2 separate regions of the Homo sapiens genome follow, and region 2 is linked to region 1. A link means that fine-mapping ties the variant in region 1 to the expression of a gene that starts in the linked region. Tissue or cell type: fibroblasts. Region 1 holds a variant in brackets; the other region holds the start of a gene. All regions are shown on one strand. Distances are between the middles of the regions.

The links. PIP is the estimated chance that this variant, and not a neighbour inherited with it, causes the effect.
Region 2: it holds the start of RASSF8, and the variant in region 1 is fine-mapped to the expression of RASSF8 in fibroblasts (GTEx, PIP above 0.99).

Annotation. Positions count from the first base shown.
Region 1 is chr12:25,824,585-25,834,793 of GRCh38, forward strand. No RefSeq gene overlaps it. Among named protein-coding and RNA genes, the nearest start is that of MIR4302, 44 kb to the right of the region's middle. The variant G/A (reference allele first, on the strand shown) is at 4,923.
Region 2 is chr12:25,954,196-25,964,404 of GRCh38, forward strand. It overlaps RASSF8 (Ras association domain family member 8), which reads left to right and starts at 4,487. Exons shown (of 6, transcript NM_001394098.1): 1 at 4,487-4,953. RASSF8-AS1 (RASSF8 antisense RNA 1) reads right to left here and starts at 5,247. Exons shown (of 4, transcript NR_038228.1): 1 at 5,131-5,247; 2 at 2,444-2,569; 3 at 2,032-2,152; 4 at 459-1,046. RefSeq lists silencers at 4,099-4,588, 4,689-4,788, 4,859-4,908, 5,049-5,098.

The sequences.
Region 1 (10,209 bases):
GACCTGTTCCCCAGTACTAAGCCCTTAGTATAGCTCCACCTTCTATCACCCACAGGCTTCTCCTGACTAAATGCAGTGGTTCTTTCCCAGCCGGGTCTGCACTGCTTCTGGCCACTCTGTTAGACGCAGTAGATGGAGGCTATGCCCTTCCAGGCAAATTTAAGGGTGACATTAACCTATTCGTTTATCAGGCTTTTGCCTCTTTTCACACCTACAACTAGGAGAGAAAGAAGAGAAAACATAAAGCAGGTGACTTTTCTGTTGTAGATCAAGTTTTTAAAAGGTTTGCTCAAGAGGTACTTCATAGTCCCAGTTCTGAAAGGAGGCTGGGATACCTTCCAGATTTAGTCTGCTTTGTCTCTGCTTAACACTGAGACTCTTCCAAATGGCAGCTCCCTCAGGAATATGTGAGCAGCACACACTCTCCCTAACATTTGTCAAAGTGCGTTAGCAACTAATGCTTCATTCCCAGTAATATTTTGAAAATTTCCCTGATGTTAGAGTGAAGGGCCTTTTTTCCCCCATCTGCAACACCCCAATCTTAACAGCCCACCATGCATTTTTGTCTAAGTATCACACCAAGGCCACATTATATTCCTGTGCCCAACAAACTAGAATATATGTAAATAAACAAGTAGAATAAAATATAAGCCACAAGATCATGAAAATTTAGAATGAAAATTTAGATGGGGTTTATTTATTTCATAACTCAGCCAGGAGTTCCATTTGCCTAGACATAAGAGATAACATCTTTATCTATTGTTGTGTGACAAATTTTCACAAACTTAGCAGCTTATGGCAACGTGGATTAATTATCTCACATTTCTGTAGGTCAGAGTCGGGTGGTCTTGGCTGGGTTCTCTGCTTAGAGTCTTATAACGCTGAAGTCCAAGTGTCAGCTGGCTGAGCTCTATCTGGAGGATCTAGGAAACAATCCGCTCCCAAGTGCATTCAGGTTATTGGCAGAATCCAGGTCCTTGTTACAGTAGAACTGAGGTTTCCATTCCCTTGCAGGCTGTCAGCCAAAGGCCATTCTCAGCTTCTAGAGACCACCGGCGTTCCTCATCATGGCGCCTCCTCCATCTTCACGCCAGCAACATCCTGTGAAACCCTTCTTTTGTTTCATGTCTCTCTGCCTCCCTCTTCTGCCACCAACAGGAGAAAGCTCTATGCTTTTAAGGGCTGATGTGTTTAGATTAGGCCTACCTGGATAATCTCCCTCTTAGAAAGTTAACTGTGCCATAGAACACAGGTTATGGGAATTAGAGGACATGGAATCGTGGAGGACATGGAATCCTGGAGGACCATTTAGAATTCTGCCTACACACCTAGCAAGTAGAATTAATACAAAAATTAGCTGGGTGTGGTGGCGGGCGCCTATCATCTCAGCTACTGGGGAGGCTACTCCGGAGGCTGAGGCAGGAGAATCGCTTGAACCCAGGAGGCGGAGGTTGCAGTGAGCCAAGATCGCGCCACTGCACTTCAGCCTGGGCGACAGAGAAAAACTCAGTCTCAAAAAAAAAAAAAAAAAACAAAAATAAAAAATCCTTTTGCTGTATCCTCAAAAGATAAAGGTGTAGTAAGTACCTTTATCTGTAAGTTTTAACAGGCAGAAGCAGTTAGAAATAATACTGAGAATGATGTTTAAATCTCTGCACGTGAAAGTTTAAAAGTTAGACTGAATTGGTCTACCATATGCACACCAAAGAAGTGTATTTTATTTTATTTTGTGTTTGTCCCCCCGATTTTTATTTATTTATTTATTTTTAATTTTGTGGGTACCTAGTAAGTGTATATATTTATGGAGTACATGAGATGTTTTGATATTTGATGTGAAATAAATACATCATGGAGAACGGGGTGTCCATCCCCTCAAGCATTTATCCTTTGAGTAACAAACAATCCAGTTACACCCTAAGTTATTTTAAAATATACAATTAAGTTATTATTGACTATAGTGACCCTGTTGTGTTATCAAATAGTTAATCTTATTCATTCTTTCTCAAAGATGTATATTAAAGAAACAAATTGGCATCCTCCAAAGAAGGTACCAATAATACTTTAGTAACCGATTTTTCTTAATACACAATTTTATAAAATATTCTAAAATATCCCACCTTGTTCTACAAAAAATGTGAGGCCATAATTGTCCTGCTGACCCCACACCTTTAATTTGACAGCCCCTGGATATCTACCCCTTCATTCACAGCCAATGTCTTGCAATTAGCCTTAACCCATCTTGCTCTCACTCTCCTGACCTGTTCCCCAGTTAGTGAGCCTTTAGCACAGCTCCACCTTCTATCCCCGACAGGCTTTTCCAGGATTAACTGCAGTGGTTCTTCCCCAACCAGGTCTGGACTGCTTCTGGCCACTCCATAAGCAACCTGTGAGGAGGTCCAGTCACCAGAGTTTCCCCCTCTCAGCATCACACTGACTGTCAAGGAAACCTTCCCTATGCCCCAGAGATAACTGCTTCTTCCCTGGTAAACTTGTAACTCATGAATTCCCCTTGTTTGCCCTCCCATTTTAGTGAATTTTGTTCTTCCATTTAACCATGATATTAAAGATATTCAATTTATTATTTATTTTACTAATGGCTTATTTAAAATCACTTGTATATATCCCTTATGTTTGGGTCAATATTATCTCTCTTAGATTATGCACCTTCACGGGTGGGTAACAAGGTACCAGCAAGTGTTACAGTGCTTTGTGAAGTATTTGCCCAGGAATGTGGATGATCATGGTGTTGAGATGTTCTGGGTAGATAGTCCCAATTCAATACCATGTATCACACCACATGCCAAAACTTTCAAGGTTAAGATAAGCCCAGGTTTATACATGGGCCATATTGTTGAAAGTTGAGAAGTTGGAAATAAGAATTTTCAGGTGCCTTTTCCTGTATGACTGGAACAAAAGTTGTTCCCATCTAATTTCCTGGAGTGTACAGCCCTTGAGTCCCATAGACTCAAGCCCATCTCAGAGGCCAATGTCAAAAAAATTATTTTTTTCTTGCTGTTGAATATGAATTTTTAATTTTGATTAATAATCGATATATTTGTTCAAGTAAAAGAAAGTCTTCTTCCTCATTCATTGCATTCAATTGTTTTTGTAATGTTGCCAGGTGTGGTTGTACGTGCCTATAGTCACAGCTACTTGAGAGACTGAGGTGGGAGGATCACTTGAGCCTGGGAGGTCGAGGTTGCAGTGAGCTATGATGGCACCATTGCACTCCATCATAAGTAACAGACCGAGACCTTGTCCAAAAAACAAAAAATGTTGACCTCTCTTGGCTCTCTAAATTTAAATACAAACCTTGTGAATTTCCATACTGTTTTTAAAACGGGGGGACTTTAATCAAAGCAGAAAACTTTGCTTCAGAAATAAATCTTGGGAATGTAAACATAAGCATATTTTATCCTTTTTGTTAATAAAAAACATTTCTAAGTACTGTAGTCTTGGCTACAGACTGAAAATAGTCTCTAACATCTTTTAAAATGTTTTGTTTCTTTTTTACTCTATGTCATTAGGTACATTATCTTTGATTCCAGATAACAAAAGTGAAGCAGTACGACAGTGAGGGAATCATTTTCTGATATTTCCAGGATCATCACAATCAACTCGGGGAACTCAGTGTGCAGAAGCCCTGCAGGAGGGAAGGGGCTGTCACTCATCAGTGGTGTCATTCAGACCTTTGCCCCGGACTTCACCGGCAAAATCCCTGTCAGGTCTTTTTCCCTCCTTCTGGATTCCAGTTAAAGTTTGTGGCCAAAATATGCAGTGACAGATGGCTCATGTCATTGCTGTAATGTCAGCCTTTGGGTCTCCGAGGGGATGACTCCAGGAATAGAAAGTGGAGCACATACAGGAGTGGATGTAAAACAGAATCTAAGACAAGCAGGGTCCTCCAGTTCTCAGAGGAATCAGGAACTTCCCTTCTAAACTCATCTAACAACAGGGAGCAGCCCCTTCTCTCTCTCAATGTGCATAGACTGAGACTTGTGCATAGACTTGTGCATAGACTGAGACTTGGGTTCGGTACCTCCTCTGAGCCTTAGCAGCTTGATTTTGAACCTGCTCCTCAATTTTCTCATAAGTAAAATGGGCATCATCATTGTACTTATCTTCTGAGATTCTTGTGGGGTCTAAATAACATCTGAAATGAATTTAGCTAAGTGCTCTGCCCTAGCTAAGCACTCAATAAATGGTAATGCTACTTTCCTCCCACTATTAACTTGGTTTTATATGAAAAAACAATGCATAATTTAACATAAAACAAGAGGCAAAACATAGAAACCCTACTAATTGAAATGTTGTTTTGTTAAAATTCCCAATTCAGATGGGACTTAGACTAAATTAGACTAAAGCCAGCATTTCATTGTGTTATTATAGAACCAGAGGGTTTTCCCACTGAAACAGGCCTGGAGAGACAATTAGTTTTTCATTTCACAGTTGAGGTCTCTAAAGCTAAGAGAGATTGTGGTCTGCCCATAGTTAGATCTAAGAAGCTTCCCTGATAAAATTTCCCATGTTGACCATTGGAATTGGCTCTAATTTTCCATTTTTGTTTGCTTCCTTTTTTGAGAAAACATGTAAAGTTTTCTATCACATGCATTTACAAAGCTATAAGTTATGAAGGATCCTGTTTTTCTCTAATTTGGTATATCCTGATCTTTTCCCTAGAGGTCTGTGTTGGTGCTGCTGTTTTCCAGTTTGTCAGTTTGTCTTGGCATCAGTGCCTCACCATTTGGCACCTGACTCAACATAGTTTTACCACCATTATCTAAACAGTACCACCCCATCTGAATGTATTTCACAACTGGTCGTCTCCGTGCCATGCCTCTGCCTGGGTCTGCTTTCCATTACGTTACCCAACCATCTGCTCCAAAAGAATGTCAGGAGGAAGTGATGCTGCTTTGTGCAGT[G/A]TGTTAAAATCTTGACCTTTACTTGGGTTTAGTCACTGTGCATCACTGGATTCCTAACTTTTTTTCTTCAAGATTCTTTCCACACTGAGAGCCACGCAAAGTTCATCAGATTCATATTTTCTGAAATATCCTCATAAGCCTCCTCACCTATGATTAATTTGAGTGTAATACCAATTATAGTTAATTACTGGGTGCCAGAATCTTTACATACATGACTTTTAATTCTTATAATAGCCCTATGTGTTCCGAAGTGCTATTATCCCTGTTTTATGGATATAGAAACTGAGAATCGGGGGATTTAACTGACTTCCCCAAGAACCCACAGTAAGTGGCTGCCTTTCCCACTAAGCCAAGATGCCCAGGAGGTGCCTTTGAAGGGCACAACAGTTGTTCTCAAATGTTGGCATGCATAAAGTTGCCTGGCATTATTAAAAGTACACCCCATAGAAGCTGGGTGCAGGGGCTCACACCTGTAACCCCCACTACTCAGAGGACTGAAGCAGAAGAATCACTTGAGCCCAGGAGTTCAAGTCCAACCTGGGCAACATAAGGAGAGCCCCTTTCTTTAAAAAGTGTAGCTCATAGAGTCTATCGCTTAAATTCCAGGCTCTTTTCCCCAATTCTGATTCCATGGGTGGACCCAGGCTCTGTTTTTTCTGCACACTTTCCTGGAGATTCTGATGCAGACCATCTGTGCAGCACATCAGCTCAGGTGAGCCACAGCTTGGCTCTGCATCCCCAGCTATGCACCAGCTCCAACTGAAGCACCACATTTCCTCCCTTCCTTCTGCTTAAAGCCATAAATTAACCAAGTGCTGAGATTCGCTTTTATAATAAAACGTAAGCTCAATGAGGTTTTCCGGAATTCAGGTTTTGTTGGAGGCAGACATCTAGCCTGGGGATTAATAGAACTGGTTTCTTTGTCTCTTCCCCTTACTGACTTTTTGTATGTCATTTGATAAAATAACCTCATTGTGTTTTTATTCTTCTCCTCTGTAAATGGAATGTGAAAATCCATGTCTACTACACACCATAAAAGACTCTAAGGAGGAAAAACGTATCCGTGAGAGTTGCACGCAAATCTCCATGCAGAGATCATGGTGTGAGTCCTCAGGATCAAATTACTCTCTTATACGTGTTGGACATGTTGATTTAATCATGGTTGCTATTTACTTCACAAAATACAAGGGATAACACATTTGGTTGGAATTTGTGAGACTTGAACGCACTATCTTGCAATGCACGGGTTTTGTACTCTTGGGAGAGTTATTTATTGTCTATGTACCTCATCGTCTTAGTGTGTGAAATGAAAATAGTAATACTATTATCAACTTCATGGGGTTGTGTCACTTAGTGCTTTGCATAACTGAACTATAACAAATTGCTTAGTCCAAATATTTTCATTCTCAATAGCCTGGCTTCAAATTATTGACAATATCAGCATATTCATTCTTAAGTACGTGCTATACTTGCTGCAATATTAGGTGCTACAGAAAACAAATATGCCATTGTCCTTGCTCTTAGGAGAGTTACATTGAAGTAGATGGATGCTCTTACCTGATACCTAAAGCAACTGACTTGGGGGGGATTTTTGCCATGTGTAGTTAAGGATGAAAAGCCAGATGCAGAAAAATATATATAATATAATGTTAGTTTTTAAAATCATGACCAAGTCTCCCTTTTTTTTTCTTTTAGAGACAAGGAGTCTCTCTGTTACTCAGGCTGTGGAGTGCAGCGGTACAATCATAGCTCACTCCAGCTTTGAACTCCTTGGGCTTAGGTGGTCCTCCTGCTGTAGTCTCCTGAGTGGCTGGAAGTACAGGTGCATGCCACCATACCTGGATAATTTTTTATTTTTGTAGAAACAGCGTCTCACTATGTTGCCCAGGCTGGTCTTAAACTCCTAAGCTCAAGTGATCCTCCTGCCCCAGCCTCCCAAGGTGCTGGGATTATAGACATGAGCCACTGTGCCCAGTCCCCATATTTTTATATGTATATATAATATATACAGATATAAAATATGTATAATTTATATTATATATAATGTACTAAATATATGTGGATATATTATACATATGTATCATTAATATATGTTGTTTAGGACAGAGAATAAAGGAATAAAGAAAAGGAGAGACACAAGGAAAAATCACAAGTAAACAACAGTTAAAAAATTACAGGACTGTTCATGGTAAAAAAAAAAGAACATATATGACATGATTACATTCAAATAAATTAGTATCTGTCTGTGTGTGTGTACATAAAGCAAAGCACAAAAACATAGCCAAATGCTAACAGTGTCTAAATCAAGGTAGTGAGATTTAAGTGATATCAACTCTTTTTCTGTATTGTTAGACTCTATAACAACAAATGTGATTTGTAATAACTAAAAACCTTTTAGGGAAGACAGACTGTGCCAAATATATTTATTATTGTACATAATACATTGTTTTATCTTTTTAAAATTGTCTCTAACAGGTATGAATTACTTTTGAATGGGAAAATATGTTATTCTTTAAACAAATATTCTCAGTAATCATAAAATGCAGTGGAACAGAGTTATTCTAAATGGAAGGTCAAATCTCCTTCAGTTACCCAAATAAAGTAAAGTGCACAATGAATTTGCTCTGCAAGAAAAAAAATTGTTACTGAACTCTTTTTTTCCTTCCTTTTTTTCCTTCTGTAGACGTTTCAATTATGTAATTCCTAGATTTGTTGAAATAATTTCATTTTTAAGACAACTTTACAATATGATTTGACTTCTGTTTTTCCAACTCATTATTATTTTCTACAACTCCACATGTCCCAAACAGAGCTCATTAGCTTCTCTTCCACCTTAACCTACTTCTCTTCCCATCTCCCTTTCAAGAGGAATGTCACCACCATCCTCCAGTCACCCAAACTGGATATCTGGGAGCCACCATGGATATCTTGCTCTAGTTCTAGGCCCTCTGCAGGCAATGAGTCAATCATTTCTGTAGATGCTACATCCTAATATGAGGTCTCTCCTTATCACACCACTTCTTCTCCATAGCTATTGTCCTCATTGGTCCTACCTAAATTGTAGCAATTATCTTTAAATCAGCCCCCCGTCTCCACTTTGAAATTTTGATCAAGTAACACCACAGAAGAATATTCAAACTTCTTCACTTACTATGCAAACAGTTATGAGTTGTCTGCCTAGATTCACATCCTTCAAAGAACCAACCTTCTCCAAAATCTGTCATCCTGGGGGCTGTCAGTCACGGTACCCTCACTCCCCATCATATTATAAGCCAGACAATGAGAGTGCTCTCTCCCCATAGGCTCAGTGATTGCTTCAGAGTTCAGAGATGGGCATATGTAAAAGAAGCATCAAGCATTCTGCCCCAAATCTTTTCTGCTAGAGTTAGAGGGACAACCCTCTCTTGTTTTTGGTGGGTTACTGATTAATTTAGCAAACTCCTTTGTAAGACTTATTTCCTTGAACTTTCTGGGAAAGCTCTAGTGTGGAAACACAGAGCAAGAGAATTATTTTAGTCGCCCTATAAATAGGACATGGATTTTCATCCAGTTTAGGAACCAATCTCAATTCTAGAAAGGTAGCCATGTTATGTGGTGCTTTATGGTGATTTCTACATTATTATAAATGTGGTGGCTCCAAAAAAGGGAAGCTATTAATTCCAACTATATTTTCAACTAGGATATAAATGTCTTTAGGTTTTTACAACGTATATTATACAACTGCCATAAAATTATCTACTTTTCTGTTCTTTTTGTTGATTAATAATAGGCATAAAATTACACATAGCTGAAGTATACAATTCAATGCATTTTCACAACTGAATGCAACTTTGCTACTGTATCTTTTTCATGTACATAACTAAATTTTAAGATAGCTAAGGTCAGGACTATGTTTTCACTTTCCAAAACACCTAGCTCAGTCCTAGGTCCAGCAATAATGCTGCCCAATATTGATGTTGCTGTCTTTTACTTACCAGACAGGTATTGTGTACCAGAAAGTCACTGGGTGTAAAGGTAGAAAGACTACTTCAACATAAATTCATGTAAAACAATAATTATATTAATCTCTAACAATTATCAAGGATTTAGAGGTTTTATTATTATTTCTGTTTTACAGATTAGGAAACTGTAATAGACAGAGATTAAAAAATTGACCAAGATTAATTAGCCAGAAATAGAAGAGCAAGACCCCAAGATAAAACTTAATTTCCAAAAAATAATTTAAGCCATGCAGTCTCTCCACTATGATAATTATCTTTTCTTTGAGACTGAGAAAAAACTTAGCCATCTTTCTTAAGACCAAGGAATAGAACACACTTTCTTTAGTAAACATTAGTGATGATTCAGCGTTGGAGGAGGAAAGAAGTTGAAGAAACTGTAGTAGCGTTTAAAATTCTGCAAAGAAGATGGGCAAGACCACATGTTAGAAATGACAGACTTACTTTTTGATTGAAGGCATCTTCCCTTTCTTCCTGGATCCAGATCACCTCTGCAGCACTGGCTTCTTTTCCATGCTGTTGTTGTGTGTAATTGCTATGATCCTTAATTTGGGAGCTCTGCCTGATGGGTGGAATTGTACTTTTGAGTGGGCAGCAGCCTGCCTCTTGTCTCTTGAAATGCCTGTCATTTTATCACAAAGAGATGGATGTGAAAGTGAGATTGTCCTTGAGTCCACTGAGAAGATATCAACCAAACAACTCACAAAATCACATTTATTTAAATTGTTTAAGGTAAGAACATTTTTCAGATTCTTGAATTATATGTTTAAAGTAATCCAAGATTTTTCTTGGAGATAGGCAGTCTGGAAAGCTGTATATTCTACTAAGAATTTTGGATAACATCTTTATGTTCTGACTCAGAGTGTATTGTCAATATTTCTGTTAAAAAATGAAAAACAAGCAACAGGCATTAAGGATTTGGTAACTAACTTTCTTTGGCTATATTTTTACTTAATATAGCTAAGACAAAGAAAATTTTAGCGACACTTTAAACAAAATTATTTAAAGTGAAGACAATAATATATATGCTAATTTGATGTCACTGCCATGTAATGCTCTAAATAGTACAATAGAATTGACATATTTGATTCTGAACTAGTGGAGACTACACATGAAGAATATGTAGATTATGAATCTGTAGACAAGGAAGATAAGGTAGAATTAAAGAATGATTTTGGAATTCTCTTATAATTAAAGTTATGCATCACTTTAGTTTTGAGAGCAAAAAGAAGTCTAAGTATTTAAAAAATTATCTTTTTAAAGTAAGATTTCCATTTTTTCATTACTAA
Region 2 (10,209 bases), 130 kb after region 1:
GGGCCCAGCAGGTACCCCTTGTGGTCACTCAGTGCTCCTGGGGGATCACTGGGAGCTCTACTTTGGGGTCCATTTCTGACACCATCTGTTAAAAGAAAAACTTCAGACAAATTAAATTTAGCAGAGCTCAATTGAACAAAGAATGACTTGTGAATCAGACAGACCCCTGAACCAGGATAGCTTTGGAGTGACTCCAGTGCTGCTGAGTGGTTGGAGAGAATTTATGGACAAAAAAGGAAAGTGACCTAAGAAAACAGAAGTAAGGTATAGAAACAGCTGGATTAGTTACACCATGACATTTCCCTTATTTGAGCATGGTTTGAACAGTTGGCCACCTCTGATTGGCTGAAACTTGGTGACTGGTACAAGAGTAGGTTACAATCTGTTTAATCATTGGGTTATAGTTCACTATGTATGAAGAACCTTTAGGTTAAACTTAAAATATTGAAGGAGGCAGCTTTAGGGTAAATTTAACACTAGGAAGCTGTAAGTAGTTTATTATGGGTGATACACAGAGTCGGGCAAGAAGGGGGGCAGAGGTGGAAAGACGGGTGAGACCAGGTAATAAAGAATCTTATGTTATATTCATAAGTCCATAATTTATTCCTGCCAGCACCACATACCTATTTGTTTAAAAATTTCATTTCCATAGCCCCCCTAGACTTCCTCATGAAGGAATTTCCTAAGACTTTGACCTTGATGAATTCTGATTCATTGACAATCCCTTCTTTATTTTCTTATTTTTATTTTTTCACTTTCTTATGGTCCTGAGACCACTCCTTTCTGAGTACAAGCATCTTGGCTGGCCTAGAATATAGTCACAACTGTGTTCCACGGACTTTACTGAAGGTGGAAACAACTGTCTTCCCAGCATCCCATCTGTACTGGTCCATTTGCATTGCTATAAAGGCAATTTATAATTCACAGTTTATTATGGCTCACAGTTCTGCAGGCTTATAGGAAGCATGGGACGAGCATCTGCTCCTGGTGAGGCCTCAGGGAGCTTCCAAACATGGTGGAAGGCAAAGGTGGAGTTGGCATATCACCTGGCAAGAACAGGAGCAAGAGAGAGAGGAGGAAGATCACAGACTCTTTTAAACATCCAGATCTTTCATGAACTCATTACTGCAGGGAAGGTACATAGCCACACAAGAGATTCCCCATCACCCAAATACCTTCCACTAGGTCCAACTCCAACATGGCGGTCACATTTCAACACGAAATTTGGAGGGAAAAAACATCCAAACAATATCACCATCTTACAGGCTGGTGTTGTCTGGTGGGCTGTTTGGGAAATACTGGTCTAGACACATTTCTCAAACTTGGCAATATGACTCCACTGGACATTAAAAAGGGATTTCCAGGTATTTCAAGATAAAGGGATTTATTCTCAGGAGCTGCAAACATAAGCTAGGTTTTCTTACAGTGTTAACATCTTGGTTTCAGTTACACGGGTCACCAGATTGATACAGATTTAGCTGAGGTAATAAATCACTGCTTCAGCAATCTTAACAGTCAAGTCAGTTATCTAACGATGATTTGACAAGTAATGAGGTCACCTGCCATTTCCTCCCATAAGTAATTCAACTGCATTTAGTTCATAATACATATGGCTAGAAAAGCATCTAAATCAATTCCTACGATCAGAGAGAGAGATGTCCCCATCACCATGAAGCAGAAGTTACAAAGAAATGGGGGAAGATGCTATGCAGTTGGCCTTAAACATAGAGAAAGGGACTATAAGCCAAGGAATGCAGGTGGCATCTAGAGGCTGAAAAGGGCAAGGAAATGGATTCTCCCCTCGATCCTCCAGAAGGAACACAGCCCACACTTTGATTTTAGATTTCTGACCTCCAGGTCTATAAGATGATCAATTCATCTCTCGATATGGCCTCCTCCTGTTCATTGCCACTGCTCTCCAGTTTAGACTCTCCCTTGGATCTGCCTCTTTTCTGAATCCATCCTCTCAAGTTGTTTTCTTAAAAATCAAATCTTATTATGTCACAGGGTTTGAAGTGCATGAATACTCACTGACTCTAGTTAGGCTCCTTTCCTGGAATATCATTAGAAACCAGAAGTAAGGGTTGTTTACAATTCCCATCAAGGACATTTGGTGTGATCTCAGGAAGGCTTAACAGGGATGTGATTATAGCTACCAAAAAAAAAAAAAAGCTTAAAACAAATTGTACTACACTCTGAAGAAAGAACGCATTAACCAAATGGGCTAGGTAGGGTAAAGATTTTTCTGCACTTATCCAGCACTGAATGGAGGCAAATTCACTGACTTTGGCAGCCATCAGTAAGACTGGAGGTGAGGATACCTGGATTTTTAGGAAGGGTTTTTCCTAAATAGTAGGTATTGTTATCCAATCAGGAAGTTCTGTCCTGATATAAATGCTCATCATATAAGAGTTAGTTATCAAGAGTCAGTCAACTTGCTCACCTCTAGATGTGGTAATACTGAGGTCCAGATCCTCCTGGTGATCAACACAAACTGGATTAAGAGTCAGCTACTCAGTCAGATCCTGAATCCTGGTCCAACGATAACCACACTCTTGCCTGCTACCTGCTTCAAGAAGTACACAAAAGAGGGATCACTACCACAGCCAAAGAAAGGAGGAAAGTTTTTTTTTTTTTTTTTTTTTTTTTTTTGAGATGGAGTTTCGCTCTTGTTGCCCAGGCTGGGGTGCAATGGCGTGATCTCGGCTCACTGCAACCTCTGCCTCCCAGGTTCAAGCGATTCTCCTGCCTCAGCCTCCCAGTTGCTGGGATTGCAGGCATGTGCCACCATGCCCGGCTAATTTTGTATTTTTAGTAGAGACGGGGTTTCTCCATGTTGGTCAGGCTGGTCTCGAACTCCCAACCTCAGGCAATCTGCCAGCCTTGGCCTCCCAAAGTGCTGGGGTTATAGGCATGAGCCACCGCGCCCGGCCAAAAGGCAGAAAGTTCTAAGAAGGAGAGGTCAACATTGGCAAATGCCACAAAGGGCACAAGATGGGAATTAAATTTTTCCATTAGATTTGGCAATTAAGCAATGGCTGATGTTGTTCAGTGGAGTGAAAGGCTGAGAAGGGAATGAGAGGTTAGGAAACATTCACCTTAAGGCTAGGCAACTCCTTTGAAAAGAGTCAAGTAGGGTTAAGGGAGGATCCATGCCCTCCAGGTTGACTTTTAAATCATATTCCCTTTGGTTTTGCATTTGAATCACAGTGAACTTTCTCCTCTCCAAATGTTGATTTGACAAATTTGAGTCTTACCATGGCTCTCTTCTCAGTCCACCTGCAGGTCAAGGAACTAATGAGGTGTGGAGTAACTAAAGGTCAAAAAACAAGAGGAAGAAACAAAGGGCCAAAAAACCCCAAACCTTAAATCAGGTCCTGAGTCAGATACGCTGTAACAAATTCTGCTTCAAGTTTAATATTCTTGTTTTGATGATGTTTAAAAAAAGAAAAATAAAAGCAAGTGTCTGGAAAATTAAAAGGCGGGGTGGGGGGGGGCATTTTAATTGGAATGCTTTCTTGTATCTCATCCACTATCCGCACCCCATCGCCCTGCAAATTAATAGCTGTTGCGGAGTTGGGGTATGTGTGACCACAAAATCCAAAGGCTGAATTTTGCCCAGTGCCTGAGTAATTGCATGCCACACACAAAAAAACAGTAGAATATTGAAAACAACATACACATCTGTATTTCCATATGAAAGCACCCGTTTCCTTTCTTGATTATCTGCTATTTTTAAAGGGGTTGGGAGTGCAGCGGGGCGGGGGGATGAGGCGTTTTTTCTGAATACGAGCCCAGCTCTTTCTAAACTTTTGTTACTCACGTCCGTTTGATTCATTTGCTGTGTTTTTTCTTTCTTTCTTTTTTTTTTTCCCCTCTCCTGCCTCTGTCATTGCCTGCTGCTAAGAGGGACGCTGAATCACAGCCACTGCAGATGAAAAGCAATTCAAACCCAGTCCTTGGAGGGGGGATGGAACGGCTCTTTTTGATTTTTTTCCCCTCTGCAGAAAAAGCCTCCTACTTTCCGGGTGACCGTAGAGGGCAGTTTGACAAGTCTCAGCCCCGGGCGATGGAAGATTTTGCCCGTGGGACCGTCACGAGCCACCGGTCATCTCCCCGCGCCCGGCTTTCGGGTCCTCAGGCCTCGGTGCGTCGCGGGCCAGGCGACAGCGGGGGGGCGTCGCGGGCCGGGCGAGCGTGGCCCGGTGGGCCCGAGGGTCGCGCCGAGCTCCCCGCCGCTTTAAAAGCTCCCACAATGCAGCGCTGGCGTCCCAGTTCCGTTACGAGGTCTCTCCCGGCGCCGGCGAGCGGGCCAGGCGCGGGCGGGGCGCGGAGGAGCGGCGGCTGAAACCCGAGCGCCCGGCCGAGGGGGGCGCCCCCGCGCCGCTCCTCTCGCGCGCTCAGCCGCTGCCCGGCGAAGGGGCGGAGCCGCCTGGCCGCCCGGCCCGGCCCGGCCCGGCCCGGCCCCCAGCCCGGCCCCCAGCCCAGAGGCACCGGCCGCGGGAGCGAGCGGGTCGCCGACTCCTACGCCCGCGCTCCTCCTACGCCCGCGCTCGTCCGGCGCCCCGCGCCGCGCCCCGCTCAGCGTCTGCCGCCCAGCTCCTCGCCCAGCCTCGCCGAGCCTCGCCCTTCCCGCCCGCGGCGGCGTTGGCGCTGGGGGCGGCTCCCGCGGCGTCTCTGCCGCTGGCCGAGCGCTCGCGCACCGCGGCACCCCCGCCAGTGGCGTCCACACTCACCTAGCGCGGGCCGGGAGGTGCGCGGAGAGGGAACGCCGGGGGGCCGGGGCCTCCAGCCGGTGCGGGGCGCGCGGCGCGGGGAGCGCCGGGGAGTGCCGGGGAGTGCGGCGCGGGGACGGGCGCTGGGCGGCCGCGGAGCTCCGGGTGCCGCCGCGTCCCCAGCGCCCCGGCCGGCCCCTCTGGGCGGCCTGCGGGGGCGGCGCAGTTGCGAAACTGAGTAAGTATTAACTTTACTTAGCGGCGGCGATCCGGGCTGCGCCGGGGACCCCGCCCGTCCCGCCTGCAGCCTCGGAGCTGCCCTCCGCCCGGTTGCCCCTCTCTCCGCACCTTGGGTACCTCGTCCGTTCCGCCCCCACCCTGCCCCGCCGCGGGCTCCCGCTCCCTCTGCGTTCACCTTTCCTGGTGTGTCACCCTTTGCGCCTCTCCTCGCGGCACACAAGCCGCGGACTGAAAAGTACGAGCTTGGTCTTTGCTTTTCTGCTTCCTCCCAGTGTCCTTGGCAAGGGAGTTTAGAGGCCACTTTTCTTGCAAAGGGAATTTTATGTCTGGTTTTTAAAATATTTTTTCCTCCGGATGGAAATCGGATGCTCGCTTGCCGGGTGGCGGTTTGGTGAACGCTTTTCTCCTCTAAAAAAATATTGGTTTATAGGTTTTTAAATTTCATTTGAACTATTAACCATCTGCATTCTATTCTCCTTTGCCGCCAGTCCCTTTGGGGAGGGGAGTCCAGAAGAGGGGACGTTCAAAGTAATTCTGACTTGCAAACTAGAAAGTTTGAGAGGGTAAATCGCACAAAGCCGGAAGATTCAACTTGAAGGGACGCGAGCTTTGAATGTGGGTCCTGGTGCGGCACTGGGTTTTAAAAGATGAGTACTTGGGTTCGGAATCCAGTGTTGCGTTGTTATTTTAGCATCATAGAGCCGCCTGGTGTTGCTAAACCACTACTTTCCCAGCCTCAAATGGCATCTTGAACAGTGCAACGTAGGATATATAATTGCGGGTCAATATTGTTGCTGATCTTTAGGGATTTAGAAGCGAAATGAATGCAAATCACGTCTCATAGCTGACTTAAACCTGTCAGGTTAGCCCTGTCAGGTTAGCATTAAAGCATTTCATTAAAAAAAAAAATCCTCTAGCCCTGTGACAGCAGGGACGAACATTTATGGATTTTCCAGTAGATTGTGGCTCAGCAATTCATTAGATCTGCTTTGTCCCCAGGAAGCATTTTAAAATATGTATAAATCTCTGCTTTTCTCTCCATTAGATTAACCACTCATTCTGGTAGGGGGCCCCAGGTAGTTTTTATTTTCTTTTTTGCCTTTCATCTTGGAGTTGCCAGGAGTTGCCATCATGTTATGAAGGAACAGAAAATGAGAAGCTTTCTTAATGGGTTTTCGACATCCTGTCCTTTGCCAGAGTGAGGCGGTAGTGAATGCCAGCCAGCTTTCTGCAGGGAGAGGTGCAGGGTGGACGCAAAAATCAGGACGCAGGAGACAGCACTATCATTTGGGGAAGTGGTTTGTGTGAGTTTTATCTTTTAGCGGGCATACTAATGGTACTTTTAATTTTATTTATCTCTATGAGGCACACTCCCCAAACCATAAAATTACACATGACCATCCCCCACTTGAAGAAGACTGAACATAGTTTGATGATTATTCTATTCAAGGATCAAGTACAACAAAATATAATTTGTAATACAGATGATAAAACCTTTCAAAAATCTCCCCCTTCCTCATTTTTTTCCTCAAGAGTCTCCAGGTGGTACTTTCTGTGATGGACACAATTGGCAGTAATGCACTGAGTTCTTTCTAGGTTTATTGATCAAATCTTATGTCTGGGCTTTAGTAGCTTAGGGGTGCATTAGAGGGCCCTGAGAGGGAGCAAATCATGGGGCTGTGCAGGCAGGAAAGGCACTTCACTTTGCAGAAGTGTCAGTGTGCTTCTGGAAAAAACAGTTACAAAGAACAGAGAGTGTTTAAGTTGTTTATAGGATGCATGTTTCCTGAATTTGGCATTTGGTTCAGATATTTGGTAATTACAGATTTAAAATTCGACATGGTTGTATAATTTGTTTTGCCTTTTATTTATTTTTTTAAGGTTGCAACCTTTTAACCTGAATCTTCAGTGTTTGGCTCTTGTAGGCTTCTATACGTGGTGACTTACGTCAGTTTTTGACCTGACTGCCTTGTGTTTTGAGAAATGATTAGTTCTTCAGGGTTTCTGACTCATTAATTGATCTGTTTTATGTTGATGTATATAATGACTTGGAAGTAAAAATATTGTTTGCCGTGGGATATTGTTGTCTTTTTCTTATGGTTAATTCCTGGCATAATGGCTTTGCTCCTTTATTATAAAACATTAAGATCTTAGATATCTTGCTAGTGTTCAAAACATTACAAAACTCTTTGCAAGTAAAAGTGGAGTGGGAATGGGAGTTGGATAGAAAAACATGCATCATAAATTAAAGATTTGGATTACAAAATAATATAACGTTTATTTACTCTTCTTTGATGCTAACTTGCTCTAACCCTAAATAGACTTAAAAATTCAAAGTGTAGAGAGAGTTTCCAAGTATTCTGTATAGTGGAAAGAATGTTTACCCCACTGCCAGCCAGACTTGGGTTGCACGTGTGACTTTGTCACTCCCGAGGTGAGTGAGCTCGGCCATGCCACTTCAGCCTCTGTGATCTACAGTTGCATTTCTGGAAAATGGGGATACCACTACTTAAAGGGATGCTATGGTGAGTAGAACATCTAATATATATTAGATGTGCCTGGCACATTTCAGCCAATAAATGACAACATCTCAAACTCCTTCAGAATTGAGCTCTTGGTCACTCAAACTTTCAAACTGTTCCCCCTCCATTTTTCATCTCATCCATCCAAGGAGTAGCTCACTCCACTCTCTCTTTTCTTCTATCAGCCCTAGCAAACCAGTCCATCATAAAGTCCTGCTGTCCATTTTTATTGCAAAATCTCTTTCAAACCGGTCTGATTTTCAGTCCCCACTATTCTGCCATCCTAATGCAAGCCACTGTACTGTATTATCTTTTTCCTTGGTGCGGTGCCTCCTGCACACACTCTGCACCCCTTGCAGTCTGTTTTACTACCAGCAGCCTGAAAAAAAAAAGAAAAAGTATTTGCCGTCTTAAAGTTGTCAGGGCTCTCAGGAAACACATTTATTTATTTTTGGGATAAGATACCAAATCCTTGACATTACTTCAGGATCCTGCATGATTTGATCTCTACATCCACTTGCATCTCTTGCTGTCATCTTGGCCAGTTCTCCAGCAGACTAGCCTCAGGCCTGTGGCTCATGCTGTTGGTCTCCCTATTTTAGGATCATCTCCTTGAGTAACTTATCATCCTTGGGTGCTAGCTCAAATGTCCTTTCTCATAAAGGTCTTCTCTGACAAGCCCACCCTTATCGTCATGCGAATTAAATGTCCTTTATTTTCTCCCTCATAGCGTAATCACTTTTGCTTCTGAATATTTACCACAATTTATATATTATTTAATCACTTAGGGTCCTTTTCTTGCCCTTTAGGTTAATATGAAGTTGATAATACCTGGTTTAATCACCAGTGCCCAGTATATGTAGTAGGTGCTCAATAAATATGTTGATATAATGAGTAAGATCGTAATATCAGTTTGTATCTTTATCTTTTTTTTTTGAAATGGAGTCTTACTATGTTGCCCAGTTGGTCTTAAACTCCTGGCCTCAAGTGATCCTCCTGCCTCAGCCTCCTGAGTAGCTGGGACTACAGGTGTGTGCCACCATGCCTGGCTTCTGTATTTGTATCTTGATTGCCTTCTTTATCACTGTTAAATTTGCTTTTCATGATAGAAAAGCCAGACCCACACTTTTCTATATTCCTTCTTTGCTGGTTATATGTATAATATGAAACGGCCTTTGCAAATATCAGGTAAAAATGCATGTAGGTTCTGTGAAATATTCGTAGTAATAAATTGAGACACCTTTTAATTAGTGTTACCCTTGTGACTTTCTGTTGTACATAATCCTTTTTCTAAATACATCATTAAAATAATTATTTTTTTATCAGCATAAGCTTACTGAAAGGAAAAAAAATCTTACTGTGCCTTACTATTTTACAGAGCGTCACATGATAACACGTTAGTCAGCTGCTGTCGGCTGGTGGTGCCAGACATCAAAGGAAGATTGGGAAAACTTTAGTAGAAAAACAAGACCTAGAGTTCTAAGGATGCTCAGTGCTGTCCAGCTGTTGATGTGACTTGCATGGTAACCAGACATCACTGGACCATACACTTAAGAGAGAGGAGGAGTTTTTTTTAAAAAAAGTGGGAGCCACCTAGAAGTCTGGAAGTTCTTTTCTTCTCTCTCACTAAAGCATTCCTTGTTTTAGCCAAAAAAAAAAAAAAAAAAAAAAGTCTCATGACCTTCCAAGGCCAAGGAAGGCTTACAGCTTTGAGTATTTTTGTCATGTGGTTGCTCTTTACGAAATATTAGCTTGATGTCCTCTAACTCTGAAGTACTTATGTCTGTTATTGATGTTTGTAATCTCTACTTCTTACATAATTCTGCATTTTTCTCTTGACTTGTTTTTTAGGACTTTAGTATTCCTTAAAAATCATTTCCTCACACCCTTAGAGTGTAGTTCTAGTTCTTTCTAGTTTTGTATCTTATAGATCACTGAGTGTGTGGGGGCACTTTGGAGCTGATTCAAGTCCTTCAGAACGTACTCCTCTGCAGTCCACCTCGGGGGTTCCCAAACTGTGATCCTTTGAGTGGTCTGGACCCTGAGGTTTCCGTAGCCTGGGTGCTCTTGGGTTGGGAGAGCAAGGAGGATGAAAGCAGCATTTTTGAGCCCCTGTTGGGTGCTCTCGAAGAGGAGGAGTGAGTAGTTTATCTGGTCAGAATTGGAAAAGTGAAGCTTAGGCTTTCTTTCCATATATTTGCTTCACAAAAGAAAATTGTTCCTTTTGTTCCTACATTTCCCCACTCCTGATTTTCTAGTCAGGAAGGCATGAGAAGAGAGAGATGCCCCTGCAAGCCAGACCCTTACCCTGGTGCTTATTTAGACCTGATTTTAAAAATGTTGAGAGCAAGCCCTGAGAGGGGCACACCAGGTGATTTGCCTCGTGTAGGCCCTCTGTGCCTGCAGGACATTCGCATCACGAGTAGCTGCCACTGTGGAGGAGAGGAAAGTTATGGTTGGGAACCCTTGTTATTTTTTTTCCACCATGTATATATGTCCACTGGTTACTTGGGTGACCTTGAACAAGTTGCCTTGAGCTTTTTAACACCAATAATATTTATTACCCATTTATTTCACAGACTTGCTATAGGATTTAGAAAGCTATTCTTAGCAAGTGTTTTTTTTTTTTTTTAAATCACATTCAGATATATCACAAAATATTGCAGTGAACTGTAGGGCTGTCCAAATTTTATGTATGCAGCAAAATATTTTCTTACTCATTAGCATATGTT